Homo sapiens: one gene and its partners. The protein of the gene in region 1 interacts with the protein of each later gene in a pairwise test. Each region holds a gene or a part of one and is shown in the gene's direction. Other genes may lie near its edges. The genes, in order: GOLGA6A, NEBL, SYT17 and SPATC1L.

What was found.
Region 2: the proteins of GOLGA6A (region 1) and NEBL interact in binary tests that used the Homo sapiens proteins (3 or more experiments, as listed by UniProt).
Region 3: the proteins of GOLGA6A (region 1) and SYT17 interact in binary tests that used the Homo sapiens proteins (3 or more experiments, as listed by UniProt).
Region 4: the proteins of GOLGA6A (region 1) and SPATC1L interact in binary tests that used the Homo sapiens proteins (3 or more experiments, as listed by UniProt).

What each region holds. Positions count from the first base shown.
Region 1 is NC_000015.10:74,079,542-74,086,568, reverse strand, and holds the start of GOLGA6A (golgin subfamily A member 6A), read left to right. Parts: upstream 1-4,018; 5' UTR 4,019-4,059; coding exon 4,060-4,143; intron 4,144-5,833; coding exon 5,834-5,953; intron 5,954-7,027.
Region 2 is NC_000010.11:20,887,302-20,894,326, reverse strand, and holds part of NEBL (nebulette), read left to right. Parts: intron 1-4,377; coding exon 4,378-4,482; intron 4,483-6,119; coding exon 6,120-6,230; intron 6,231-7,025. UniProt on the Homo sapiens protein: Binds to actin and plays an important role in the assembly of the Z-disk. May functionally link sarcomeric actin to the desmin intermediate filaments in the heart muscle sarcomeres.
Region 3 is NC_000016.10:19,163,379-19,171,261, forward strand, and holds the start of SYT17 (synaptotagmin-17), read left to right. Parts: upstream 1-4,861; 5' UTR 4,862-5,268; coding exon 5,269-5,283; intron 5,284-7,883. UniProt on the Homo sapiens protein: Plays a role in dendrite formation by melanocytes.
Region 4 is NC_000021.9:46,160,635-46,167,459, reverse strand, and holds the end of SPATC1L (speriolin-like protein), read left to right. Parts: intron 1-4,869; exon of another isoform or gene 4,870-4,951; coding exon of another isoform or gene 4,952-5,153; intron 5,154-5,392; coding exon 5,393-5,544; intron 5,545-5,754; coding exon 5,755-6,081; 3' UTR 6,082-6,300; downstream 6,301-6,825.

The sequences.
Region 1 (7,027 bases):
ACACATGCTCATACTTATTAGATGGATGTATCAGATGCTTCAAAAGTCCTGATGTGTAGTAGCACAAAAGCTGCTTGTAAAAAGGAAGTTGCAAAATGATAAAAATTTCTGCAGCAGTTCAGGCTCCTGATGACAAAGCTGGTTCTGATAAGTAGTTCTTTTGACATGCACAGCAGGTTTCACTGTAAGTCCTGTGTTCCAGCGGTTTCATTTAGACCACGGGAAGTTGAAAGCAAAGTTTAAATGTTCTCTGCTGACAAAATGTGGTATATATCCATCAATGGACTTCTACTCAGTAATGAAAGGAACAAACTACCAAAACCTGTTATATGTCATGGACCAACCTCAAAAACCTTAGCTAAGTAAAAAGCCAGACATGTGACCACATATTGTATAATTCTGTTGATTTGAAATGTCCAAAAAAGGCAAGTTGATAGAGACAGAAATGGTCTGATTTACCTCAAGAAGTAGGGATTCAAGCTCTTAGGGTACATGTGATACATACATTAGAAGAAATAAGGAAAAGAAAAGAAATTTATATGTAAATAAATGAAAATAATACTTCTCCCTGATTATAAAGAAAATTGCATTCTTTTTGTAATAATTTGGAAGACAAAATATGAAGAAAAGTCTTTAATTTTGCCACTGAAAGCATTCTGGTTTGTTGCTTTTTATATTTTTTTATGCATATGAACATTTTAAAAAGTAGAATCGTAATATATAGTCTTTTGTCACTATGTTTTGGGCATATTTCTATGGCAGTAAATATATCCTTGGCATCATCTTTTTAAAAGCTCGATGTGTATTAAGTTAATCATTGCCACCCCAGAAGTAAATTTTCTTATATATATATTTTAATGGACGCAAGCAAGCATTTTGGGGCTGAAGTCATAGAAGTAGAATTTCTGGAGAAAAATAACATAAAATAGTTTTAAGATTTTTAATAGAAATTTTCAAATTATCCTGCAGAAAAATTGGTTCAGTTTATACTCCCAACAGGGGCAGAGCTCCAGTATCCCGTTTCCATTTGTCCTCTTTGCTGATATTTAAGGAGAAAATCTCATTGTTTTCATTGTATTTCTTTGGTTTCTAGTGCTTTTGAAACTTTTTTTTTTTTTTGAGATGGAGTCTTGCTCTATGGCTCAGGCTGGTGTGCAACAGTGCAATCTCGGATAACTGCAACCTCTGCCTCCTGGGTTCAAGCGATTCTCCTGCCTCAGCTTCCCGAGTAGCTGGGATTACAGGTGCCCACCGCCATGCCTGGCTAATTTTTGTATTTTTTAGTAGAGATGGGATTTCACCATGTTGGTCAGGCCCGTCTCAAACTCTTGACCTCAGGTGATCCACCCACCTCGGCCTCCTAAAGTGCTGGGATTACAGGCGTGAGCCACGGCCCTGGCCTTGAATCATTTTTATGTGCTTATTGGCCATTTTTATTCTTGTGGGAAGTGCCTGTTTCTCCATTGCCTATTTTCTGGCCAAGCTCCCAAGTCACATTTCACTTAATTTTTATCCTGCTGATTGAAAGCATTTTAACATAAACAGGAGCAGGACAGACTGTAATTATCTAGATCTTGCTCTGTCACCCAGGCTGGAGTGCAGTGGCATGATCATAGCTACCACAGCGTCGTACTCCTGAGCTGAAGCAGTTTTCATACATCAGCCTTCCAAGTAGCTAGGACTACAGGTGTGTGCCACCACCCCCAGCTAATTTTTAAGATTTTTTGTAGAGATGTGAATTCACTATGCTGCCCAGGCTGGTCTTGAACTCCTGACTTAAAGTGATCCTCCCACCTTGGCTTGCCAAAGTGTTGGGATTACAGGTGTGAACTACTGCTCCTGGCCGAGGGCTCATTTTGTTTGCTAGTGGTGATATTGGTATCTGTTTATATTTGAGGCTTTGGTGCTAGTGCTGAAGTATTACACTCACCATCCGAGGTTTGCAGGACTTTTGTTTTAATATTGAATAGATGGAACTGTTTACTTCTGCATCTTTGCAGGCATACAAAATGTGCCTACCAGGACTCTGCTTTATATCTATTGAAAGCAAGAAGTAATACAGTAAAACTTTGCCTGGCTAGAGGCTTTGGAAGAATGGAGTATTCTGATTTAATGCTATTGAAGTGTGAAGGTGAAAAGAATGAAAAACTTACATTTCCTGTTGAATGCAACTTGAAAATACAGCCAGTGATTCCACTTTTCTTCTCTAGTAAGTTTGGACATTCTGATCTACTTGGTGTTTTATTATAGAACTGCTAGTGTGCCCGAGACTTACATTGTGAAGACACTTTTTAAAAAACCTGAGAGGGAAGAGGGTGTAAATGGTATTGTGTGAGATCAGGCTGGATGAGAACTGACACTTGTAAACATACTTTTTAGGCTGAATCTCTGATTGCCGTTTGTTTTCTTATTTAACTCATAAAAATAAAACACATTGGATGGAGGGTGGGAGCAGGAAGGAGATTTATGTCTTTTAATTGCATGCCATTGTTTCATATCAAGACAGAACATATGGTATCCCTGGCTTTGGACCTACAGAAGGAAACACATTTTTCTGCCTGCTGTATGCCAGAGGTTCTTGAACACCTGGAGGGATGACTGCAGCACAGATTGCTGAGCCCTACTCCAGAGTTTCTGATTCACCATGTCCAGGGTGGGGCCTGAGAATTTGCACTTATAAAAGGTTCTCAGGTTCTGCTGCTGCTGCTAGTCCAGAGACTACATTTTTGAGAACCACTCTTGTCTACTAACTGTAAATTGTAGAACTCTAGAACAAAGCTTAGTTTGGTGTAGGAAAAGACGCTCACAGGTTATGGAGCAAATCATGAAAGATTCAACCCTTGATCCCAGCCTAGTGTGGAATTCAGGTAACAATCAATACACAGTGACATAACACAATTCTTGGTTTTCATGATTGCAAGTCATAGCCAAGTATCAAGTGAGAAATTCAGTTTCATTTGCAAGGCTTAGAGAGGCCAGGTGATTCTAGAAAAATAGGCCTTGTATTTGCTTTAAACCAGTAAAGAGCTTTGAGTGCTTATTAAATGGAAAGCTTTGTGTTTTTATTTATTTTTGACTATTTTATTTTATTTTTTTGAGATGGAGTCTCAGTCTGTCACCCAGGCTGGAGTGCAGTGGCGTGACCTTGGCTCACTGCAACTTCCGCCTCCCGGGTTCAAGTGATTCTCCTGCCTCAGCCTCCCCAGTAGCTGGGATTACGGGTACCCACCACCACACCTGGCTAGTTTTTGTATTTCGAGTAGAGACAGGGTTTCACCATGTTGGCCAGGCTGGTCTTGAACTCCTGACCTAAGGTGATCCACCCACCTAGGCCTCCCAAAGTGCTGGGATTACAGGTGTGAGCCACCACACCCGGCCCAAAAGCTTTGTGTTTTTAAAGATATTAGACATGTTTCTTGTTTTTTAAAAAATCTTAATAATGTAGGAGAATAAGAGAAATGTTTTTTCCAAAGCCGAGAAATCATTGTGATTATTTTACCTTATTGGGATGTTGGATAATATAGTCCACTTCATTCATTAATCATCAAACATGCTATGGATTTTCCATTTTTATAGGATTTGTGTCTTAACTGGGGTAATACTGGTAATTCTTATACTCCCTCTGAAGATGAAAAATGTAGGCCAAAATCATAGACCATGCATAGAAGCTGGATAATGAAGACAGCTCTGGAGGAACATGTAGACACACACACACTGACACACATATATATAAAGTATAAATACATATTTTTTTAAAGTTTATTTTTAACATTTTAAAGCAAAAACCAGCCCTCCCCTCTCCCGGAGTAGGCAGGCCCCGCCCCTCTCCCCAAGTGGGCAGGGACAGCAGTCGCATGGGCAGCTTTCCTTGTGATGTCACAGGTTCCTCTGGGCACACTGCTGCCTGGCCACGCCTCCTTTCCCTTTCATCTTTCTCATTGACCAATGGGATTGGAGCATTAAGGCCACACCCCTATTCTGCATTCTAGTGTGGCCCTGGTTACGCCTCCTCTGGCTCAGTCACACAGCAGCCTTGTAGGTGACTGGAGGTGTTCGCTGATGTGGCCCCAACCCTACCTCCCTCCCCACCCCATGATGTTAGAAGAATCTCGACAGAATAAATTGGCAGCAGCCAAGAAAAAGGTAAAAAGCCAAGAAAAAGGTCATGGCCCCCCAACCTAGCCAGAGATCCCCTCTGATGACAAGACCACTCCCAGAGTCCATACCACTCCTGAGGCACACCGGGCTGGGCCCCCCTACCCCGGCGCCTCTGGACTCCCCCCACCAACGTCTTGTCAGTCAGCCCCGCCCCTTCAGCAAGCAGCCCAGCCTCTGCCCTCGCCAATCACCCTGCGGTGACTTTGGGCGGATGACTACTGGGGATACCTGCTCCATATTCAGCCCTCACGTCCTGCCACCCCAAGCCCAACCTCCCTGGGTTCTTTGGGCTCACCTCTCCAAGGACCTGGGTCCCCCAGCCCCAACCCCCCAGCATCGCCAGTCATCCCGGGGTGACTTTGGGCTGGTGACTCCTGGGGTTCCCTGAGCAGACTCTGCTCTCCCCTCCTGCTGACCCAAGCCCGACCTCCCTGGGCTCTCTGGACTGGCATCTCCAAGGACCTGGGTCCCAGCCCCACGTCCCCCCTCCCCCATCGTGGATCGGCAACTCAGCCATTGCACTGATGAGGTTTCCCCCACCCCCAGGAGGAGTGGAATGTAGTGATGTCACAGTCCTCCTAGGAACTGTCATTACTGCTGCAAGACCGGCCTTTGATCTTATAACCCAGTCCCCTAAGCATTCTCACCCCATTTCTGGTTCCTCTGGTCACAGCACAAATTTCCAGCTAGAAGGGAAATGGGGACCATGGGACCTAGGAGCAAGAGGTTTCAGGCTGCCTTACTCCCTTCACATAGACATCGACAGTGTGAAAAGCCTACACTTCCCCTGTGAGCTCAAAACGTTGACAGTATCTCTGGGTGGTAATGGGAGAATGGGTTTGGTTTGGTTTTCTCCCAGGCTTCTACTCTCCAGAGAGACTTTAACATTTTTTTCCGAGTTCTCCACCTCATATTCTAATTCTCCACGGTTCTGGGACCAGACTGCCCTTCAGTCAGTGGTCTCTGAAGTGAGATTTGCTCATCTTCTGTGGAATAGGTCTTGGGAAACTGAACTTGACAGCTTGAATCTTCCTCATATCATCTCAACTTAGGGTACATTGAGTGCCACAGGATAAATGTGGGAGATCTTTCTGAAGCATCAGTTTCCCTTGATTCTCTTGAGAGAGAAAAAACATTAATGTACTTAGGGGTGACCCTCACATAGGTTTCTAAGAGTATACCAGACTTCTCTCTGAAATGAGACTTGGGTTGTCCTCTTTCTGATAAATTCCCAGATTTAACAAAAAAGCTGCCTTCTGCCATGAGGACACATTGATATAAAAGTTTGAGAGATACTGGTGCACTTCTTCACACTAACAGGCATTTGAGGATGTATGACTCTAAACCACACAGCGTGTAGTTCATGCCTATGTAATGTTTACTTTTCTACCTCTGCGTCTGGTTTTGGTCCCCGGCAGCTGCTGATTCATGGCAAAACCCCAGAGCTTGGAGTCAGAAGACTGAGTTTAAGTTCCATTATTGCCCCCCCACACTTTTTTTTTTAGCCATAATATCCATCCCTCTCAGTCACTTAAGTGATTGTGACAACACCTTGTACAGTTGTTGGTGGCATTAAATCAGATGGTGTATAAGAGTATTTTGCAAAAACTGTAAGGAGGGTGTGGCTGTAAGGGCTGGTAGTTCTCATGAGTATTACTGCTCTTCTTTCCCACAGCTAAAAGAATATCAGCAAAGGAAGAGCCCTGGTATTCCAGCAGGAGCAAAGACAAAAAAGAAAAAAACTGACAGTAGCCCTGAGACAACCACTTCCGGTGGTTGCCACTCACCTGGGGATGTGAGTCTTGGCTGGCCAGGCTCCTGGGGACAGGGGGCCCAAGGGGCAGTAGAGGGTAATTGTTGAGATTGCTGGGTACTGGTTAAGAATTCTGGGTTTGAATCCTGCTTCTTCATCTGCTAGCGATCTGATTTATGGCAAGTTGCTTGAGCTCTTTGGGCCTCTCTTTTCACATCTGTAAAATAGGGGTAGTATTGTTTGACTTCCATTTGTGAAGTTTAAATGAGATTCCTTATTGTTGTTGTTTTCATGTTAACCCCCAGTACGTGGCCTGCTGTAAACACCCAGGATACCCAGGAAATGGTCATTGCTGTTTGATTTTCCTGATCCCCACTCGCAAGGGGAAGCTGGGCTAATGAGTACAGCCACTTGCCATCAGGCTGTCCCTCTAGGAGTCACTGAAGGGGGCCCAGGGTGTGGTGAGGAGAGCCCAAGGCACTAGGAGCAAGAGAAGGTCTAACTTGCCACCAGCTTGCTGGGTGACCACAGAAAAATCACTTCTTCTGCTGGGCCTCAGTTTCCTCCTCTGTAAGATGATACTGGATAAGATCAGTGTCTTTCAAACTTGTTTTTTAGCTGAAGTCCCCTTAGTTCAAGTGAACTCTTACTCAGGAGTCTGTTTTTTTTTAATGGAGGTGGAGGTCTGGAGCTCTACCAGATTCATCGCCCATGTCCTGGGCCTGAGGAGAGGGGTCCAGTGAGCGTATTAAGATCTGCATTGGTCAGCTGACTCCACTCTGTGACTGCGTCACTCGGGGGACTTTTCCATCTATTTTTTCCTGCCCCTGGCAAGGCAGCAGGTGGCCATTTGGAAGAATGGCACAGGCCATGGTTTTAATCTCCTCTGCTCTTCTTCAGCGTTTCCTTTTCCTGAACCCACATCTTCCTCCTACCCTGACTTTCTTGCTTCTCTCTAAGCCACTTCTGTCTTTCACCCCCTGCCCTTGTTTTTCCCTTGTCACCTCCTGTAGATTCAGGACATTCTGAAGGTGCGGGTGTCCAACCTTAACCACTCCAATGGGGTAGTGCTCCCCCATTGGACAAGTGGAAGGTGAGGCAGTGCCAAGACCCCTC
Region 2 (7,025 bases), on another chromosome or scaffold:
TAATTTTCATTTTCTTTTTCGTAGAGATGGAGTCTCACTATGTTGCCCAGGCTGGTCTCAAGCTCTTGGCTTTAAGTGATTCTCCTGCATCGTTCTCCCAGAGTGCTGGGATTACAGGTGTGAGCCACCGGGCTGGCCCTGCTTCGTTTCTGTAGATGAGAGGGATGGTTTCATGGACTTCTCTTCATGGTGCAGCCTAATTGTTACTCTTTGGACTTCTTCCAGCTTTCATATATCCTTAATAACCAATATGTAATAATCAGAACTGTGCAGAGTGGTACAGATGTGGACGGTCTAGATCACGTGTAGAGCAGGATGATGTTTTGCTTAGCTTCTAGCACCCTTTATGATGCTATGAAGAGTTTCTTAGACTTGGGAGCTGCAGAAAGCTGTTAGATCAGCTTGATAATCTGTAGACCATCAGAGCCATTTCATTCCTAATTTCTGACCTGTAGCTGATAGCTTAGGACCCATCATCTTTAAATAATAGTTTGAATTATTTTAACCACACTAGGGCTAGATCTAATCTGTAGTTTTCTGCCCTCTTGCCTGGCCCTTTGAGAACTTCTGAAGTTCATCTCAGTTTGCCGTTTCCCTTACTGAGACAGCTTGGAGTCAGCAGACCTGTAGACACTGCTATATCATCCCCTTGTCAGACAATTTTATAGAAATGTTAAGCAAGATTGGCCTAGAGATCAGCCCTAGGAAGCCTGCACTGCTTAGAATTCTCCATAGAGAGAAATGTCCGTTTTTCAGGTCAAGTGGCTTCACTTTGGGCATCAGTATAAGGCATTTTTCTTTCTTTCTCTTTCTCCCCCCACCTAGTTTCTGCTTTGCACTTGCTCTACCCACATTATGGGGTTCCTCTTTGCACAACTCACTTCCCAGTCTTGAAGAACAGCTGGTCTTCTGAGGCAGCCTCTTTTATTTTTCTGTTAATCACATAATACTATTATTTTCTCAGATATATTTTCACAGATATTCTCTCTGTCATATTTATTCCTGTTAGTCTAACCTAACATTATCTAATCAATCCCTTGAATAAGTTAAACCTATCCTCTCTATTGAGCATTCAGAATCCTGGATCTAGTAGTCTTCTGATGGGGAGTCATAAAAAAGATTGGGCAAAAGGGAATCTTTTGTATGTTTCTTGTAGATTAGGCAGAAAGAGCCTTCTGCAGAGCAGGTGGACCACATCTGCATGCAGCCTCTCAGTGTTTAGTTCAAGGCTGTTTAGGGTGTTCATCTGCATGGCAGCAGGAAGAATATTTTCCAGGCAAATGAACGTTGTTGTGGGTAAATCCTTTCAATGCCAAAAACATTAAATTCTGTGGTTACTCCTCCAGAGAAAGCTTAGATGGTATCAGAAAACCTGGGAGAGTGATCTTAGCTATGTCCAGCCCAGTTAAATAATGATGGAGCCATTGTTTTTCCTTCCAGGGTGTATTGAATTTAACTTGTATGATTTCACTTGTGAAGAGCCTTTCCAGATACTTTCAGTTAAGAATTCTTGTGAAAGGAAAGATCCGCAAACATCTCCATGTCTGTCATCCGATTTCAGCCTTTAGCTAATCTCATACTCATTCAAACAAACTTGGCCAGGAGGAGGAAGCGACCCTGCACTAAATTCATCCTAATTGTAATGGAGACGTGGGATTTGTGGGTGAGGGCAAAAGAGAAGGTCAATGTTTGGGACATCTTAATGATCATAAAGTCATCAATTTTGCCCTTTTTGTCTTTTGGTGTTGGGTTGTGTATTCGGTAGGAGTGCAGATGACTGTAAAAACAGGAAAACTCTAACACAATGGCTTAACAAGTAGGTTTTTGTTTCCCCAGCCTCCACATATAAAGCCCGGAGGTAGGTAGTTCAGGCTGGGTACTATGGGTGTTATCAGTCTCCCAGGCTCCTTTCCTTCTATTCTGTCGTCATTAGTATGGTGGCTTATTCCTTGGTAATGACATCATTGCTGCTGCCTTCCCTTTGATTGAGAAAGAAAAATGTGGAAGACAGAATGTCACAGGGTTGTGCAGCATCTCTCCCTTTGTACCAGAAACACTAGAAGCACTTCTGGGAAGATTTCCACTAAAGTCACAGAGAGTGTGGCTCCCCAGGCCAAACACTGGATGGCATGACCATGCCTGGTTTAGATCAGCTTGTCCTCTGGGGCTGGGCAGGAGCCTGGCTGCTCTCATTAATCCATCTGGGCTCTTTTAATAGGAGATAATGGGAGTGGCCAGTCTATCCAATAGATGGTGTCAACCCGAAATTGTAAGATGTAGACATGGCTGTAATAAAATATAGCAATCTATTCAGTGATTTTTATTTTACCTAAGATTTGTTTCATTGACCAATATAGTTCCCTTTCAATGATCATTTCCTGTTATCTTGGTGTAGGAAGGCTACTAATATGTATCTAATATTTATATAAATATTCCTTATGTATTTAAAAATCTAACATTCTTTGCTTATTGTCATTCATATTGCACAATTCACTTGAAATCACACATGATTGTGTGTGACTTCTAACAAATTGTACAATTTCTCTTGAATTGTACAATTGTAAAGGATCTTAAATTTTAAATACACCTTCATTTAAAATATACAAATATGTGTATCTTTTTAATAAAGACCCAAGAAAAAAAAATAGAGTCTACAATTAAGACTGAGCTATTTGTCTGCCTAACAGAAGAAGTAAATACCTCACCCTTATCCAGTCCTCCTGTCCTGAACGTTCTGCATGTGTCAGACTTTATCAGGAGGCTGTAGCCACAAGCACATACCACTGCAGTGAAGAATGTGAATGTGATGGGGAATAGATGGTGGCAAAAGATAAAAATAATGAGTCAAACTTAAGCCTAATGATAGGCTATTTTCTCTCACACTTAATTATATAACGGAGATACTTTTTTCTCCATATGATCAAAATAGCCTACTATTTATCATACTGCCATTAACAGTTTAATTACTAGTGGCTGAGGAGGGTGATTTGCAGGAACCTAAAATTATGGCTAATCTCTGAGAAGAAAAAAAAGTAATTTAGTGCTCAGATAAGATAAATATGTTCTCGTGTTGATTTCATGAATAAAGCAAATGTTTAATGTGGTAGGCATCTGATATCCAAGAGTCACAGCAGTGAAATATGGGATTTTGAAATAACTTCACTTAATCTGTATCTAGTTCTACCACAGGTTAAGTAATGCCCGTCAAATCAGGCTTGCATATGGGAAAATCTCCATGTACCATTAGTGTATAACATCAATATTATTCACATCCTCTAAGAACCAGGTAGTATATACAATTCAGCTCCACTTTTGGGTTATAATTAGGGAGAACATATAATTTATCATCTGAAACAGGAACACTTTTTCAGTTTAAGTATTTATGGTCTTGGGAGGATAAACACGAGCATATTACAGAGTGATACAACTTTTAGCAAATTACCTGCATCTTCTCAATGAGTCATAGTTTTGCCTTCCCAGTTTCCAGATTGTGCAGCAATTAGTGTGACAGTGTGATTATACTTTAGGTCCTTCTCCACATTTCCTGACTTCTTTTGGGCTCAAATATCCACCCGGGTCTTCCCCCGGCATAACAATTCTGGCCTATCCCCAAAGGGGAAGAGAGTGAGTCATTTGACTTGTGAGTTGCAGAGAAGAGATGAGCAGGTTTAGCTAAGCCTCACTGGGCTTTGTCTTGCTGATCTCCAGCAAGAAGGCCTTCTGGAATGATCTCCACCACATAGCAAGCTTTCTGGGCAGGTTCAGTTCTTCTCTGCGCTCAGGAGGAGGATTGGGAAGCCTATGGGTGCTCATAAATTGGGAGGAATTAGTAACAGGAAGCCCACGTTGGCCACAATTTAAGCCTCTTCCTCTAATCAAGCATGTCTAGGTAATAACGGTAATAGTGATCCCCATTTAATTTCGCCTCTACTTCTTAATTGGTCACATCTGTCATGCTGACTACTTATTTTCTACCTTGAGGTAGGCAGCTGTGTTTCTGTTTGGCCAAAGGCTTATGTGTCAAGGCTTAAAAGCAACAAAACACCAGGACACTTGTAGGAGCGAGATGGCACATGCTTGCTAATTGCACTGGGCTGGCTGGGTAAACAGGACCCATCACCCGTAGCCAGCACGCCTGGTGTTGATGCTTAACTGGACCCTCGCTTATCTAAAGAATGGTCTTTCCTCACTATGCCTCATCATCTTTGCAATCCTGTGCTGGATAGCCGTTTATTTAACTTGGCTTGTTTTGAGGTCCCTTTCACACTTGAGTATTTACTTCAGTAAATGGACTTTATCAACCTAATTATCATTCAAAAAAGGCCATTAGAATTGTTTTTCTTTTTCTCTTCTTATGTAAATCATTCTCTTTTTTAGATCCGTTATAAAGAAGAGTTTAAAAAGTCCAAGGATAAGTGTACATTTGTGACTGACAGTCCTATGCTAAACCATGTAAAAAATATCGGTGCTTTTATTTCTGAGGTAAGGTATCAAAAGCTTGCAAACTGGCTTGCATTTATCTTTTTCTTATTATATAGATGAAAGTCTGTGCATTAAAGAGATGAAGAATAATATTTTCAAAAGCACTACTGAATGTTAGTAATAGCTACATAATTATCTAATGTGATGCGCTGTCATTTAACTCATATAGATTGACAGATTTTACTATGTATGCTTCATACATTTTATTATATATGTCTATATTTTGACTCTAAATCTTTCTTATTTATATACGATTCCTCTTGAAAAGGCATCTTTTTATTAAATAAGTAAAAGCACTGGCACAATAGTTCACTTTAGAAGTTCCATTATTTTGTTTCCTAATAGATATATCAGAGATAAATGATTGAATATCATTTTGGAAATAAATAAGATTTACCAGTTTTCTAAAATGTGATATCTTTGATAAATAATTTTAAATGTATTTAAACTATTTTGGAGTAGGATAAAGTTCAGTTCAACAGTGATACCTATTATAAAATCACAGACTGAGGAATACGCTATATTCATTTTCCAGCTGAAAAATTATGTAGTTTCTTTCTGAGAGCATTTAGAACTACAGTTTATGTTGCATTGTAAAGCACAATGTTAACGATGATGATTTCTGTGGTGAGGCATTACTGTAGTCTGTGAATAGATCACTTAGAAGAGATACGTTTGAAAAGAAACGGAAATGAAATAGTGTTGTAAATGACTGACCTCTAGTGTTTCATAAATTATGTTGGAAAAAGATCAACTGGATGTCCTTGGGATTATTTCTGCTAATGCGAAACAATTTTGAATGAAATCAGTACGTTTTCTTTCATTAAGTACCAAAATCCAAAGAGTGTGGTAGCAGAAGGCTAGCACAGGATCTGTGCTCAATAAATCAATACTGAAATCTAGCTCTGAGCAGGAAGAACATCAGGAACTCATCTGCAGATAATGGAAGAACATAGTTTGTTTGTCTTAGCTATGTTCCATTCTCCCGTGCAGATAAATACTTGATGTTCTCAATTATTGATTATGTTTCCTGAAGGAGTTAATTGCAGAGCAAAATATTGGAAGTGAGCAATCTATTGTGTTCCCTTGAACCTTAGTTTTCCCAAGAGGAAAGAGTGTTTGTCTTTAGAGTAGTGACTGAGATGGCTTAAAGACAGTGCAGGCTAGAGGTGGGTAGGCACATAAACAACAAAAAAGCACTCACTCCCCTCTCCCCCTGGAGCAGGAGGAGGCTGAGAAGACCTGAATAAAAGAACACTGTCCTTTGTCAAGTTCTAGATAGTAGATTCTAACGACTTGCATTTTCTGGAACAACTCGAATTGTTTGCTCACTCATCCAGCATGAAACTGTCAATATACACAAATAGATTTACTTTTAGAAATGTGCTTGCATTTAAATAGAAAGCCATTATGTCCTTGCATGTCTCATTGAAAGCGTTCTCTATGATAAATTGGATTTATTTCTATCTCTTCAGAATCCTGGAGTTTGTCAGCTCTGGTATCTAAAATTAAAATGGTCTGCAGATTTTAAAATCAATTCTGTTTTGGGAGAAAGTTTCTTCTTTTCTACTTATAATCACAGTTTAAAAAAATGGAAGTTTATTTATTTATTTTTTTCCTGTTTTTTTTTCCCCCAGGCAAAATACAAAGGCACCATTAAAGCTGACCTTTCTAATTCTCTTTATAAGCGGATGCCAGCCACAATTGACAGTGTTTTTGCAGGAGAAGTTACACAGCTCCAGAGTGAGGTAGGGTTTTTCTAAAGTGTTTCATGATTTTGTAGATAAAACATATAACTGGAAAAAAGCTACTTAGCGTTTTAATAAAACGTTTTCATCATGGGTGTTAAATACCAAATGAAAGTTGAAAGCAACTGATTAATGTGCTGTCAGTAGTTGCTGTTGAAATTGCAGAAAATGAAAAGGACACGCAGGTTTATGTCAGTCACATGGTACTGTTTTCTGAGTCCCATTCAATGCAATTTATAGAGCAAATCTTAATCTCATTTAGACAGCTTACATGGATGAAATTCTTATAGTAAATATTAAACTGTTCTCTAATTTGATATATGATCCCTAAGTAGAGAATATTTGAATAGCTTGTTAAAAGCCACATAAAGAGATAATGGGGCTGGACACTCTGGCTCAGGCCTGTAATCCCAGTACTTCAGGAGGCCAAGGTGGGCAGAATGCTTGAGCTCAGGAGTTGAAGACAAGCCTGGGCAACATGGCAAAAGCTGGTCTCTACCAAAAATACAAAAATTAGCCGTTTGTTGGCATGCACCTGTGGTGCCAGCTACTCAGGAGGCTGAGGTGGGAGGATTGCTTGAGCCTGGGAAGTTGAGGCTGCAGCGAACCAAGATCATGCCACTGCACTCCAACTAGAGCAACAGAGTGAGCCTCTGTCTCAAAAAAAAAAAAAAAAAAAAAAAAAGGTTGAATTCAGGATCCACAGATCTGCTTCATCAATTAGACAAGTGTTTCCTGAATTTCCTTTTCTGTAGATTGTGTTTTTCCTTTAGGATATCTCAGGCTACCAAAAAT
Region 3 (7,883 bases), on another chromosome or scaffold:
CTCTCTAGCCTTCCTTGCCTTCCATGACCTCATCACCTCTCACTCTGGTACTGCCATTGGCTCACTGCCATTATCTTGGTTCAGACTCGCATTACTTCTCACCTAGATTGTTGCAACCATCTCCTCACTGGCCTCCCTGCCTCCAGGCTTGTCTGCTCCATGTCCAAAGACAGCCAGGTGGACAGACAGACAGACATGCACACAGCCCTGCCAAAATCTTTCTGATCACAATCCTCTCTGCTTTTCCATGGGGTAACTTAGGAGGCCGCCTGACATGTGGCATCTGCTACCTGTGGAGCCACACCTGGCACCCACCTCTCCCTAGTTCCCATTCTCACCTCTAAGCTAATGCAGAAGCTACCTTCAGGGCTTTCTTACTACTTTCTGTGTCATGAAACCCTGGGCAGTCCATCAAAGCCTATAGAGCCCTCTTGGAATAATGTTTTTAGAATCGTAGAATAGAATACATAGATTGATAATGAAATTATAATGAACACTGATATACAGTTATCAAAATATTTAAACAAATTTAAATATGGTCATGTCTTTGCTTCTTTGTTAACACATTAAATAGACAATTTAGAGGTGGGCCTAATAACTATTTGTAATTTTCAAGCAGTAAAGAACATAAATGAAATTTCAAGTCATTTGCAACAACTGCAAGTGTAATGAGATAGACTACACATGATCTTTGTTGGTGACAAAGTCCTGAGTAAGTGCTAAGCTTGTTTTGGTTGGTTGCCTGCAGTCATAATGGAAGGAAACACTAAATTTCAGAAGGAGGTTGGTGACAATGGTGATGCAACTTTTTTTCTTTCTAAGTTCATGGACCTTCCAAATAAGCCCCACTCCCCATCTTTGGTTCTTTGGGACTCAGCTTAATGTCAGCCCCTCTGGGAAACCTTCTGTGATCCTTCATCACACGAGGTTGGGGCCCCTCACCTGTAACCCCACAGTCCCCTGAGCCTCCCTTTATCACACCACAGGTCACATATAATTCCATGCATTTGTCTACCTCCCTGATTGGGGCCTTCTTCATTGAGATCTGTAAAGGTGCCAGCTTTGCAGGCACAGCCTTGATCTGAGTCCAAGTTACATTGAAAAGCTGGACTTCATGTCCCCGTGAAAGGCAGGAGAGGCTTGCAAAGCAGTGGGATCCTGGAACTCATTGACACTCCCCTGATGAAGGACTTAAACTGATTTCTCGTCCATTCTTTCATCTGACGATGGTGCAGCCATGATGAGTTGAGACTTTATTGCTAACCAGACCTGCATTTTTGTCCTGTCCCTGTCTCTTGTCACCTGTTTACCTTGGGCAACTCACTTTGCTTCTCGTCTCAGGATTTCAGTTTCCTCACCCGTAAACTGGGGACCATGACAGTACCCACCTTGTAAGGCTCCAGTAGGGATGAAACAAAAACAAATGTGAAGGGCTTAACACTCAATCATAATAACCAGTTGTCTGAGAGTTGAAAGTGTCCATGTTAGCTGTTGTTGCAACCCATTTGCTCATTCAACAAGCATTTATCAAACACCTATTTTGCCAGGTGCTTTGCATACATTTAAAGCATTTCATAATACCAGAGGCAGGTTCTATTATCCGCATTTTAAATAACCTCTTCTTTTGCTCGAGAGGTGCTTAGTATTCTTGGACAGTTTCAGGTCATAAGGGATTAAGGTACCAAAAAATTCTGGGGACGGGGTCATCCCCCTCCTCCAAGATCAGGCATTATTAGGCAACATGGTGCAGGGGCTAGGGAAAGGATTCAGGTTTAGGTTTGAATCCCAGCTCCTGGAAGCCACACACACCCTGCAGGGCAGACACATTTGACGGCAATAATTGAACTTAGCTTACCCTGCGAACGACCCTATGGTCTAAGAAGAATGTGTATTCACAGTTCAGAGCTAAGGAATCCGGGAGTGGCCAACCTGGAGATTCACTCCTTATCTATGAAGGATGTCTGGGTCCCCTGCCTATCCCTTGGAATGCAGGCTGTACAGGCAATTGAGGCCCTTGGTTTTGGGTTAAAGAGCCAAAACCCTTGGTTAAAGGGCCAAAAGGAAGTTGCTTAGATAGAAGGTGCTAAGCGAAAATGCTATATAAACTGCATGCTTTTTATATAAACATGTTTTTTATATAAACAATCGAGGCCCTTTGTTTTGGGTTAAAGGGCCAAAAGGAAGTTGCTAGGTGGAGGGTGCTAAGTGAAAATGCTACATAAACTGCATGCTTTTATATAAACAGTAGAGGTTCTCCTGTCCAGCCAGCTGCCACTGGATTGTCCCTGTATGTAAGTTCCCTCAATAAACCCTGTGTCTCGTTCACTGTCTCTAGGTCTCTTTTTTGGCCTCCTGGACATGGTACTATTCCTAAAGGAGTTAACAGTGGCCTGGCATGACACGCCTTGGGCAAATGACTTCATCTCTTTTTTTTTTTTTCGAGATGGGGTCTTACTCTGTCATGTAGGCTAGAGTGCAGTGGTGTGATCTCAGCTCACTATAGCCTCAATCTCCTGGGCTCAAGCGATTCTCCAGCCTCAGTCTCCCAAGTAGCTGGGACTACAGGTGTGAGCCACCAATGCCGGGCTAATTTTTGTATTTTGTAAAGAAACTTTTTGTAGGCTGGTCTTGAACTCCTGGCCTCAAGTGATCCACCCACTTTGGCCTCCCAAAGTGCTGGGATTACAGGCATGAGCCACCATGCCTGGCCAACTTCACCTCTTAATGCCTCTTTTTTTCTCACCTAAAGAGTGGGATAGTACTTGTGCCTACCTCATGGTAATCAGAGAATTAAAAGATCAAAATTTGTGTAAAGGGCTGAAAACAGTGCCTGGTACACAGACCTCAAAAAGGGTTAACTTTTTTTTTTTGAGATGGTATCTCATTCTGTCACCCAGGCTGGAGTGCAGTGGCACGATCTCAGCTCACTGCAACCTCCGCCTCCCAGGTTCAAGTGATTCTCCTAGCCTCAGCCTCCTGAGTAGTTGGGATTACAGGCACCTGCCACCATGCCCGGCTATTTTTTGTATTTTTAGTAGAGACGGAGTTTCGCCATGTTGGCCAGGCTGATCTCGAACTCCTGACCTCAGGTGAAAAAGGGTTAACTATTTTTACTTATGGGAACACCTAGCAAATTCCTCGAACTCCCTCAAGTGCCCCCAAGGAGCACCCGTTCCAATAGGCATCCTCCTCTGTGAGGCTCACTCCCCACCTGGCATGCCTTGCCATCAGTGCTGGAGAAAGATTGTGGATAAATACCACAAAGTGGTTAGGAGTGGCCACTTTGGGTTCACTGCTGGACTTGTGGGTTCAAATGTCAGTGCCCTGGGCTACCAGCTGTCAGGCCTTCATAGAGGCTTTACCTGTCTGGGCTGCAGTCCCTCATAAATTGGAGATAATCATAGCACCTCCCTCAGGAAGCAGAGTGAATAAGGCAACAAAAACAATTACTGAGTGCCTACTCTGGCTGGACAGGTGCTACCTAATAGGAGTGATCAAGGTACTGCAGGTTGAAATGAAATAACGCTTGTGAAGTGTTGAGGCGTGTATGCCTGCAGAATCATAAGCACTCAATATGCGTTACGTGCTATATGCTACAAACTAAATATATCATACTAAAAAATGTATAGGTCTGCTAGATTTTTAGACAAAAAATATATGCATCTGAATATCCATCTTTTGTTACTCCCATATTCATTTTCTCATTTATTCCCACAAATCAGCCCTGGAGGATAGGCAGGGTGGAGATTTTCTCCTGTTTTTACTGAGGAAAAAGAGGCACTGGGAGGTTAAAATTAAAATGCTGATAAGCTGGTGTCCGGCAACAGGAGATGACTGGGCATATTAAAAAGAAAACCGGCCCGGCGCAGTGGCTCACGCCCCTAATCCCAGCACTTTGGGAGGCCGAGGCAGGCAGATCACTTGAGGCCAGGAGTTCGAGACCAGCCTGGCCCACATGGTGAAACCCTTTCTCTACCAAAAATACAAAAATTAGTGGGCGTGGTGGCATGTGCCTGTAGTCCCAGCTACTCGGGAGGCTGAGACACGAGAATCCCTTGAACCTGGGAGGCGGAGGTTTCAGTGAGCCAAGATTACCCCAGTGCACTCCAGCCTGGGTGACAGAGTGACACCCTGTGTCAAAAATAAAATAAAATAAAATAAAATAAAATAAAATAAAATAAAATAAAATAAAATAAAATAAAATAAGAAATCCAGCGGAGGGCAATGTTCCACCTCGAATCTCTGAGTGGAGAGCCAGAGGCCTTGGGCTGGGAGGTTTGATGGAGGCCTCTGGGTCCAGGGCGCCCCAGCCACGAGGACAGGCAGGAGGGCGGCGGTGGACACGCCCCGGGGCGCACGCTCGCTGGCGGCCGCCTGCCCGTGGGCAGAGGAGCGCACGAGGCCGGGCACGACGCTGGGTGGCGCTGCCGGGCCGCCCCGCGCTAGACCTGTTGCGTCCAGGGCGCAACTCCGGCAGGTTTAGGGTAAAGGGGCGCTCCGCTCTCTCCGCGCGCCCCCTGCAGCCCTGGACGCAGCACCTCCGTTTGGGACGCCCTACGCCCACCTTAACTTGAGGCTCCCATCCACGCAGCCTCTGCAAGCCTCACCGCAACCGTGCTAGGCGCGTCGGGTGGGGCGGGAATAAAGTTTTTCCAACCCAGTTTGGGGAGAGGGCTGGATGGGAAGGACCCTCCCTGCTGCAGACTTCATGGCAGGCTGCACTGTGTCCCCTCGGCTCCACGGCTGCCCCGGGGGCGCTGCTTTCGGTAGGTGCCAGCCCCCGTGCCAGCAGGATGGGCTGACCTGTGTACCGCCCCCTCCCACCCCCTTCCCCATTCCCATCCCCTCCCCCGCCTCCTGCGCGCTCCGGCCCCGGCGTCTCCGGCCCCGCCTGCGCTGGGGTCGCTGCAGTCCCCGCAGCTGCCCCGGGCTGCTTGCCCAGGCGCCCCGGCCTTATTCCAGCCTGGGGAGCGCCTCGGTGGGGAGCACGGGACAGCGAGGGAGGCCGAGGCGGGGGCCCTGGGCGCCCGATATCTCCGAACCGGGGAGGCGGCCCCGATTCCGAGAGCCGGAACGCAGGGAAAGGCAAGGACGGGGCGGCCGGCGGAGGGGCGGGCGCCGCTCATCAGCCACGCCAGTCACGTCTGGGGCCACCGGCTGCCTTTTTCTTCCTTTCCCCCTTTGCTTTCTTCCCCCTCCGCTGTTGGCGAGGGCAAAGTGGCCGTGGCGGCGCCATGCCCGGGCCGGAGTGAGTGCGCGCGGGCGAAAATGGCGTACATCCAGGTAGGGCTGAGGCTGGGGGCAAGGTCCGGGGTGCGGGTAGGGGGTGCCGCGCCCCCTCCGGCTGGGAGCGCGCGGAAGGGAGGGCCCACGGCTAGGCTCCCACAAACTTGCTTCGAGAAAAAGGGTGCCCGTGCGCGGGCAACCTGTGCAGCAACAGGGGTGCGCCCCGGGAGGAGAGACTGGGGACCCCCAAACCCCGGGATGGAGGGTCCTATGTGTACTCTGCAACGCGCGCCCTTGCCTCTTGGGGAGGGAATGGGGGGTGGGGCGGACTTTTCTTCTCCCCTGCCCCCTCCCTCTCCTTGGCACCCCACCCCAGGGGAGGGGCCGTGGGGAGGGCGGCCCGGGGCGCGCCAGCCACCCGGCCCGCCAGCTGCCGTTGCCGTGGTGACGGCTCCGGCTAATTGGCCGGCGGAGCGAGCCTGAGGCAGCTGTTCCGACCAGGAGGGACAAGGACGTCGTCTCTCCTGGGCACTGGGTGCTGAGGGGTGGGGGACACCCAGAGGCCAGAGGCGCGCTGGTGAAGAGAAGGGAGCCTGTTACTTTACTCCGCTGCATTGGGGTCTGGGAGATGTGGACCCTCTTCACCTTGAAGAAACGTCCCCCAAGAATCCTTGGGCTGAAATAATTCTGAAATAATTTCTAAGCAGCCTTTTTTGGGGGGAGGGGGCGGAGGGGTGGGCCGGGCTTCTTGGTGAAAAGACCTTTCTCCTCTGCAAGAAGGGAAGTGACCGCAGGTCAGCGCCAAGGTCAAGCAGGCAGACCCGCAGTGAGACCCGTTGAGCTGCTTGCTTCTGGCGCTGGCGCCTCTGAGCTGGGCAGAGAAGCTTACAGACTCCCACGTCCAGGGTGCATCTTGGCTCACATCTTGTCCCCTCAGCCACAGCTGGGGGTGCTGCTGGTCCTCCCATTCCCCTCTGGGTCACATATCCCCTCATCGTGTCCTCAGACGCTTCAGCCTGCCGGGAACTCTGTGCTGTGTCACCTGGCGGAGCCTCTTCCATTCATCTCCTGCCTTAGATTCCCTGAATTGGCTTCCCTTTCGTGGAATCGCCAGTTTCTCTTCAAGTTCAATGAAGGTCACATTACTGTCCACCCACTGTGTGCTGAATGTTGTCCAGGGGCTATTGAGTAGTCGCCCAACAAACACTTGGGCGACCGCCTACTAAGTGCTGGCACTGGGGATACAGTGATGAAAACAGCACAGTTCCTGCCCCTCTGGGTGCGCAATTTAGTGAGAAATGAACATGATTACCGGCTCCTGGAGTTCTTAATGGCCGCCTTCAGCACAGAGAAATTAAGTGACTTGCCCAAGGCCACATAGCTGCTTAGGGGTCAAGGTGGGATCTCAAGAGGGGACTGTGGTAGATATGTTAAGCATCTCATATGGCGATGACCCAGTGATGTTGGTTTTCCTTCTAGAACAAGGTGTTAAACTTTGTTGTCCTGTAAAGTGCCAGATACTATTTTTTTTCTCTTGGAGGCTCACATGGTCTCTGTCACAACTATTCCACTCTGACTATAGCACCAAAACTGCTATGGACAGTAGTAAATGAGTGGGCGTGGCTGTGTTCCAATAAAACTTTATTTGCAGGCACCAAAATTTGAATTTTGTATACTTTGCACGAGTCAAGAGGCATTCATCTTTTTTTTTTTTCAACCTTTTAAAAACTCACAAATTATTCTTAGCTCAAGGGCTGTAGCAAAACAGGCTGCGGGGCTGGTTTTGATCTGCGAGCCTTAGTTTGCCAACCTCTGTTTAGAATGCATGGGTTGTCTTTCTTCCTCTTTCTTTCTGGTGTGAATTGGTTCTCTTCCATCGGTGTCAAACACGTGAGCCCAGGAGACCCAATGCCAGAAAGACTCAGCATGCCTGGGAATGTCAGGGCACCCTCTTTCATCTTCTTTGCTTTCTCTCTGCTCCTTGACACTCATCTTGCACCTGGGCTTTGAGAAAGTTGGGGAGGCTGTTTTTCAGCAGGGCCATGAGGTGACCTTGTCTCTGTTCACTTTGGTTTCATAAATGGCCTCTTTTGACCACCACATGTCTAGGAAATGCTTCCCTGTATTCAGAAAATGGTCATAGATTATTATGAAAAAGTATCACTTTATCCTAACATTCTAAAGCACTTTTTCATGCAAGCCCTATGAGGGTATAATATTTTGCTGTTTTGTGCCCTGCTGTACCTGCCGGGACAATACCCAGTGCCTACTGGGTTCCACTAGGTCTTGACAATCACCTAATTCTCATCACAGAAAGGGTGCATTTTATTTTTCAGCTGGACCGCACGCAAGTATTTGCATAGTCAGTGTCCTGTCCCACCTCAACAGCACGCCTTTGAGGTATAGAGTAGCCTTTCCACTAAAGAAGAGGTAACCGAGGCTCAGAGAGGCCCCCTGTCTTGCCCAAGTCACATGATCAGTCGATGGTGAGACTAGGACTCTAGTACTTCCTGGCTCAGCTTGTTGCGTGGCCCCTCAGCACCTTTGGGTCTTGTTCTGTGTATGGTTTGAGTTTTGGCTTTAGAGAGTTTGTGATAAGTGCCTTTGACTATTTCCCAAGCTGTTGCTATTCCCTTACCACTTCGAGGATTTCAATT
Region 4 (6,825 bases), on another chromosome or scaffold:
AATTTCATTTATTTCTTCTCTGATCTTAATTATTTTTCTTCTAATTTTGGATTTGGTTTGCTCTTGCATTTCTAGCTCTGTAAGATGAATCATTAGCTTATTTGAAGTTTTTCTACTTTTTTGATATAGGCACTCATAACTATAAACTCTTAGCACTTACAGCTATAGCTCTTAGTATGGCTTTTGCTGAATCTAGTACATAGTAGGTTTTGGTGTGTTGTGTTTCCATTATCATTTGTTTCAAGACATTTTTAAAATTTCCTTCTTAATTTCTTCACTGATGCACTGGCCATCCAGGAGCGTATTGTTTAATTTCTATGTGTTGGTATAATTTCCAAAATTCCTTTTGTTATTGATTTCATTTTATTCCATTATGGTCGGAGAAGATACTTGATATAATTTCAATTTTTTTGATTTTTAAAGACTTGTTTTGCAGCCTAGCATATGGTCTATCCTTGAGAATGATCCATGTGCTAATGAGAAGCAGGTGTATTCTGCACCTGTTGGATGAAATGTTCTGTAAATATCTATCATGTTCATTTGGTCTATAGTATAGATTAAGTCTGATATTTCTTTGATTTTCTGTCTTAAAGATCTGTCCAAGGGTGAAAATGCGTATTGAAGTCTCCAGTTACTATTGTACTGGGGTCTGTCTCTCGATTTAGCTCTAGTAATATTTGCTTTACATATCTGGGTGCTCCAGTGTTGGGTGCATATATATTTATAACTGTTATATCCTCTTGCTGAATTGACCCCTTTATCATTATATAATGACCTTCTTTGTCTCTTGTTATAGTTTTTGTCTTGAAATCCACTTTGATATAACTATGGCTGCTACTGCTCTTTTTTGGTTCTCATTTGCATGGAATATCCTTTTCTATCCCTTTATTTTCAGTCTGTGTGAGTCTTTATAGGCGACGTGTGTTTCTTGTAGGCAGCAGATGGTTGGGTCTTGTTTTTTTTTTATCCATTCAGCCACTCCGTCTTTTGATTGGAGAGTTTAGTCTATTTACATTCAAAGTTTCTTGGTTGTTTTTGACCAAACTCACATACTATCATTCATCGATTTGACTGTGCTGTAATTTTTTTTTTTGGAGACAGGGTCTCACTTTGATGCCCAGGCTGGAGTGCAGTGGTGCAATCTTGGCTCACTGCAACCTCCGCCTCCTGGGTTCAAGTGATTCTCATGCCTCAGCCACCCGAGTAGCTGGGATTATAGGTGCGTGCCACCACGCCCAGCTAATCTTTGTATTTTTAGTAGAGATGGGGTTTTGCCACATTGACCAGGCTGGTCTCAAACTCCTGACCTCAAGTGATCCGCCCACCTCAGCCTCCCAAAGTACTGGGATTACAGGCATGAGCTACTGCACCTGCCTATTTACATTCAAAGTTATTATTGATAAAGATTTACTCCTGCCATTTTGTTATTTGTTTTCTCATTGTTTTGTGGTCTTCCCTCCTCTTTATCTAGAAGAGTTTGTGTTGAATTGGTGTTATTTATTCCTTAAGTGGTAGAATTCACCGCTGAAACTACCCGAGCCTTGAATGGTCTCTGTGGGAACATTTTCCCCCTACAAATTCCATTTTATTGATAATGTCAACTGAAATTAAGGCTGTTGAGACAAATAATTCGATAAAGGTTTATTGGAAGCCAAATGTGAGGATCAACCCAGAGGAACACACCAACAAAGTTGAGAGTGTTCTGGAATCTAAGTCAGAAGGTTTCTATAGGAGAGGCTAGGAGGAGGGAAAGGACTCCTCATACTCATGTCTAAGTCAGAAGGCTTCTATAGGAGAGGCTAGGAGGAGGGAAAGGACTCCTCATACTCATGTTGTCCTTTTCTAGTCAGAAGGTTTCTATAGGAGAGGCTAAGAGGAGGGAAAGGACTCATACTCATATCTAAGTCAGAAGGCTTCTACAGGAGAGGCTAGGAGGAGAGAAAGGACTCCTCATACTCATGTTGTCCTTTTCTTTGGAGGGTACAACACAGAGGTTACAAGCATTGGCTACAGATGACAACATACAGGTCAACACATCTCTGTGCAAGACAGTCAGTAAACCTTTATGATTCAGGAATAAATCAGCATCTTTTCAGTCCATTAATCAGCACATCAGCAATCTGAGGAAATCATGATAAGATTCTTTACTCAGGGACCATTAATCATAAGACCTTCCCAAGCAGGCCAGTTTGGAAGTCTGTTTACTTTTAAACTGTCAAATGTGACCTGTAAGGTTATCAGATATAAGGCTATTCAGAGTATCTATTTCTTCTTGAGTGAACTTTGGTAGTTTGTGTCTTTTAAGGAATTGGTCAATTTCATCTAGGTTGTCAAATTTATTGGCATAAAGTCATTCCTAATACTTCCTTATTATCCTTTTTATGTCTGTAGAATCTGTGGTAGTGGCATCTCTAATTTCTGCTAGTGGTAATTTTTGTCTTCTTTCTTTTTTCCCCTAAGTCTGGCTAGAGGTTTATCAATGTATGGCCTTTTTCCTTTGAAGAACAGGTTTTTGGCTGGATCTTACAGAGCCCAGGTTGGACTAGAAATCATTTCTAGAACCTATACTAGAATCATTTCTCTTCTATAGGATGTTTCTTCTACCTCATTTTTGCCTTGGTGGGGGGATGGGAGAAAGAGCTTGATTCTTTTTTTTTTTTTTTTTCTTGAGATGGAGTCTCGCTCTGTCGCCCAGGCTGGAGTGCAGTGGTGCGATCTCGGCTCACTGCAACATCCACCTCCCGGGTTCAAGCCATTCTCCTGCCTCAGCCTCCTCAGTAGCTGGGATTACAGGCACCCGCCACCATGCCTGGCTAATTTTTGTATTTTTAGTAGAGATGGGGTTTCACCATGTTTGCCAAGCTGGTCTCGAACTCCTGACCTTGTGATCCACCCACCTCGGCTTCCCAAAGTGCTGGGATTACAGGCATGAGCCACCGCACCTGGCCAAGAGCTTGATTCTTGATGAGAGAAATACATTGATACAGAAGGAGGAGATTACACCTGCTCTTCCACACCCCTCATTGGCCCTAACACACTTCTGTGCAGTGTGTTGACATACCTCTTCTGCAGTCTTGAAAAGTGATTGGGAAAGAAATACACTGAAAACTACAAACATCACTGAAAGGAATGAAAGAAGACATAAATGACCAGGCACAGTGGCTCACACCTGTAATCCCAACATTTTGGAAGGCTGAGATGGGCAGATCTCTTGAGCCCAGGAGTTCAAGACCAGCCTCAGCAACAGGGCGAAACCCCATCTCTACCAACCCCCCACCACCCAAGTTAGCTGGTCGTGGTGGTGCATGCCTGTAGTTCCAGCTATTCAGGAGGCTGAGGTGGGAGGATCACTCAAGCCCAGAAGGTAGAGGTTGCAGTGAGCTGAGATCGTGCCACTGCACTCCAGCTTGGGTGACAGAGCGAGACCCTTTCTTCAAAAAAACAAACAAACAAACAATAAATAAATAAACAGAAAAACACCTTGTGTTCACAGATTAGAAGACTTTATATTGTTCAAAAATCAATAATTTTGATATGGATTACATTGGATCTGCAGATTCATGCAATCCCAATCAGAATCCTAGTGGCTTCTTTACAGAAATTGACAAGCAGAAACTGAAATTCATATAGAAGTGTAAGGAACCAGAATAAGTAAAACGATCTTGAAAAAGGAGAACATTGAGGGACTCATACTTCCCAGTTTCAAAATTGACTATAAAACTTACAGTTAACAAGACTGTGGTACTGCCATAACGATGGACATACAGATCAATGCAATGGAATGGGAAGGTCAGAAATAAAACTGTACATAGATGGTTTTCAACAAGAGTGCCAAGACAATTCAGGAGGGACTGAATACTGTCTAACGCGTGGTGCTGGAACAAAGAGGTATCCACATGCCAAGGAATGAGGCTGGGCCTTACTCCACACCACATACACAAATTAACTCAAAATGGATCAAAGACCTAAGAGGTCTCAAAGAGCTGAGGCCAGAAAACTTGTAGAAAAGACATAGGGGTAAATCTTCGTGACCTTGGATTTGGCAATGGATTCTTAGAGATCACATCAAAAGCATGAGCAAAAGAGAGAAACAGACAAATTGGACTTCATCAAAAGTAAAACAAAACAAAAAAACAAACTTTTGTGCTTCAAAGGACAGTATCAAAAAAATGAAAAGCCAACCCGGAGAATGGGAGAAAACATTTGTAAATTGTGCGTTTGAAATGGGACTAGTATGCAGAATATTTAAGAACTCTGACAATTCAACAGTAAGAAGACAAACAATCCAATGAAAAATCACTACAGGACCTGAATAGATATTTCTCCAAAGAAGATACAGTATATAAATGGCCAATAAGCACGTGAAAAGATGCTCGAATCACTAGTCGTTAGTGAAATGCAAATGAGATACTGTTTCCCGTCCTCCAGGAAAAAGATGGACAAGGTCATGTGCTGTTACGGACTCGGATGCCATCAGAGGCTGTCCTGGGGAGGGGGGTTCGGAAGCAGGTTTTGTGGGAGCATTGCAGTCTCCTAAGTAATGTTGAGGAAGTAATTAAAGTAGAATGTCCTGGGCCAGGTGCGGTGGCTCACGCCTGTAATCCCAGCACTATGGGAGGCTGAGGTGGGCGGATCACCTGAGGTCAGCAGTTCGAGACCAGCCTGGCCAACAGGGTGAAACCCCAGCTCTACTAAAAATACAAAAACTTGGCTGGGTGTGGTGGCACGCGGCTGTAGTCCCACTACTCTGGAGGCTGAGGCAGGAGAATCGCTTGAGCCGGGGAGGCGGAGGTTGCGGTGAGTGGAGATGGCGCCACTGCACTCCAGCCTGGATGACAGAGTGAGACTCTGTCTAAGAAAAAAAAAAAAGTCCTGCCAACCCAGCGGTCCTTTTCTCAGAGGTAGGAAAGAATGAAGCAGTTTTATTGAATAAACATTAAAGCAGCCTTTGATGCCCAGAGGTTGCCAAGACAGAAGAACTCTCCCCCTTCCTCCCAGCCAAGCCGACCGGCCCTGTTCCACGGGCGTCCTCACTGGAGGGGACCCGTCCCAACTCAGACCTCCAGGGCCGGGTTCCTCTGTCCTCGCAGGGGCCGACGCTGGGGCAGACTCCCGCGTGACAGGGGACCAGTCCCCACCCCCGAGATTAAAAGGTTTACCTCATCGCAAAGGGACAGAAGGGAGCCGAGGACAGGGGGAAGGGAAGGCTGGCTTGCCCTTTGGCACTTTAAGAAGCTCCTTTTCTTTCAGATTCTATTTGCCAGACAGTGGGGGGTGGCGGCAGGTGGGAGGAGGGGGGTGGAGGAGCCGCCCCCCACGTGGCCGAGGGCACCCTCGAGGGCAGTGGATCCTCGCGCTCCCCTGACCTTGTCCCCGGCCTTCCCTCCCCCAGAGATCCAGAGCTTCGCGGGCGCCGAGAAGGACGCGCGCGTGGTGGGCGAGATCGCCTTCCAGCTGGACCGCCGCATCCTGGCCTACGTGTTCCCGGGCGTGACGCGGCTCTACGGCTTCACGGTGGCCAACATCCCCGAGAAGATCGAGCAGGTGCGCCCCGTGGGGAGGGCGCGGCCAGGAGGGTGCGGGGCGCTCGGTCCGTCCCTGTGCGGCCCCCAGATCTTGGCTCCTGGCCGGGCACTGTCCGCAGGAGGGGACCCCGGGGACCCAGGCGGGCGGGGCAGGGATCGGCCCTGGGCCTGGAAGTCCCCGTCCGAGGGCCCCGAGCCCCCCACCCCCATCCATGCGCTGCGCCCGCAGACCTCCACCAAGTCTCTGGACGGCTCCGTGGACGAGAGGAAGCTGCGCGAGCTGACGCAGCGCTACCTGGCCCTGAGCGCGCGCCTGGAGAAGCTGGGCTACAGCCGCGACGTGCACCCGGCGTTCAGCGAGTTCCTCATCAACACCTACGGAATCCTGAAGCAGCGGCCCGACCTGCGCGCCAACCCCCTGCACAGCAGCCCGGCCGCGCTGCGCAAGCTGGTCATCGACGTGGTGCCCCCCAAGTTCCTGGGCGACTCGCTGCTGCTGCTCAACTGCCTGTGCGAGCTCTCCAAGGAGGACGGCAAGCCCCTCTTCGCCTGGTGAGCCGCCCCGCGCCCGCCGCCTTGCCTGCAGTAAACGCGTTTGTTCCAACCCGGGGCCGCGGTGCCTCCTGCGCGTCCCCCCGGAGGGGAAAGGGCCGCGTCCCCCGCGCGCGAGGCCAGAGAAGGCCCCGCTCCCACCGGTGCTGGGCCCCGACCGCAGCCCGCCGCTGCCCGCACCTGCGGAGTGCTTCTCACCCCTCATTAAAATCATCCGTTTGCATGTCTGCCTTTACCTCTGGCTCTTTGAGGGCGTGGAGGGCGCCTCGGCCGCTGCTCCGCCTGCAGGAAGCGCCGCTCGGTGCTCAAGGAGGGAAGCCAGGAAGGAGCCGCAGCCGGCAGGGGCCCCCTCTTCCCCCTCCCCCCTTCCCCTCCCCCGGGCCTCCACGCCCACCCGCTTTCCCGCCCGGGACGGCGAGTCCTGTCCCAGTTTGGGTTTCCCCGAATGCCGAGCTGGGGCAAGGACTTGGTTCTGGCGGATGGTTGCGCACCCCTGCCGGCAAAATGGAAACGCAGCCCCTTGTTCAAAAGCGAAGAATTCGAAAGGGCAACAGCCGCGTTACAGTGAACCCGGACCTTAGGGCTGAGCAGTGGCAACGCAGGCGGGAGAGCGCCGGGGAGCCCCGAGACCGTGGGGGTGCTGGGGGTGGGCGAGCACAGGGGAGCCCCGGAGACCATGGGGGTGCCGGGGGTGGGCGAGCGCCGGGGAGCCCCAGAGACCGTGGGAGTGTTGGGGGTGGGCGAGGAC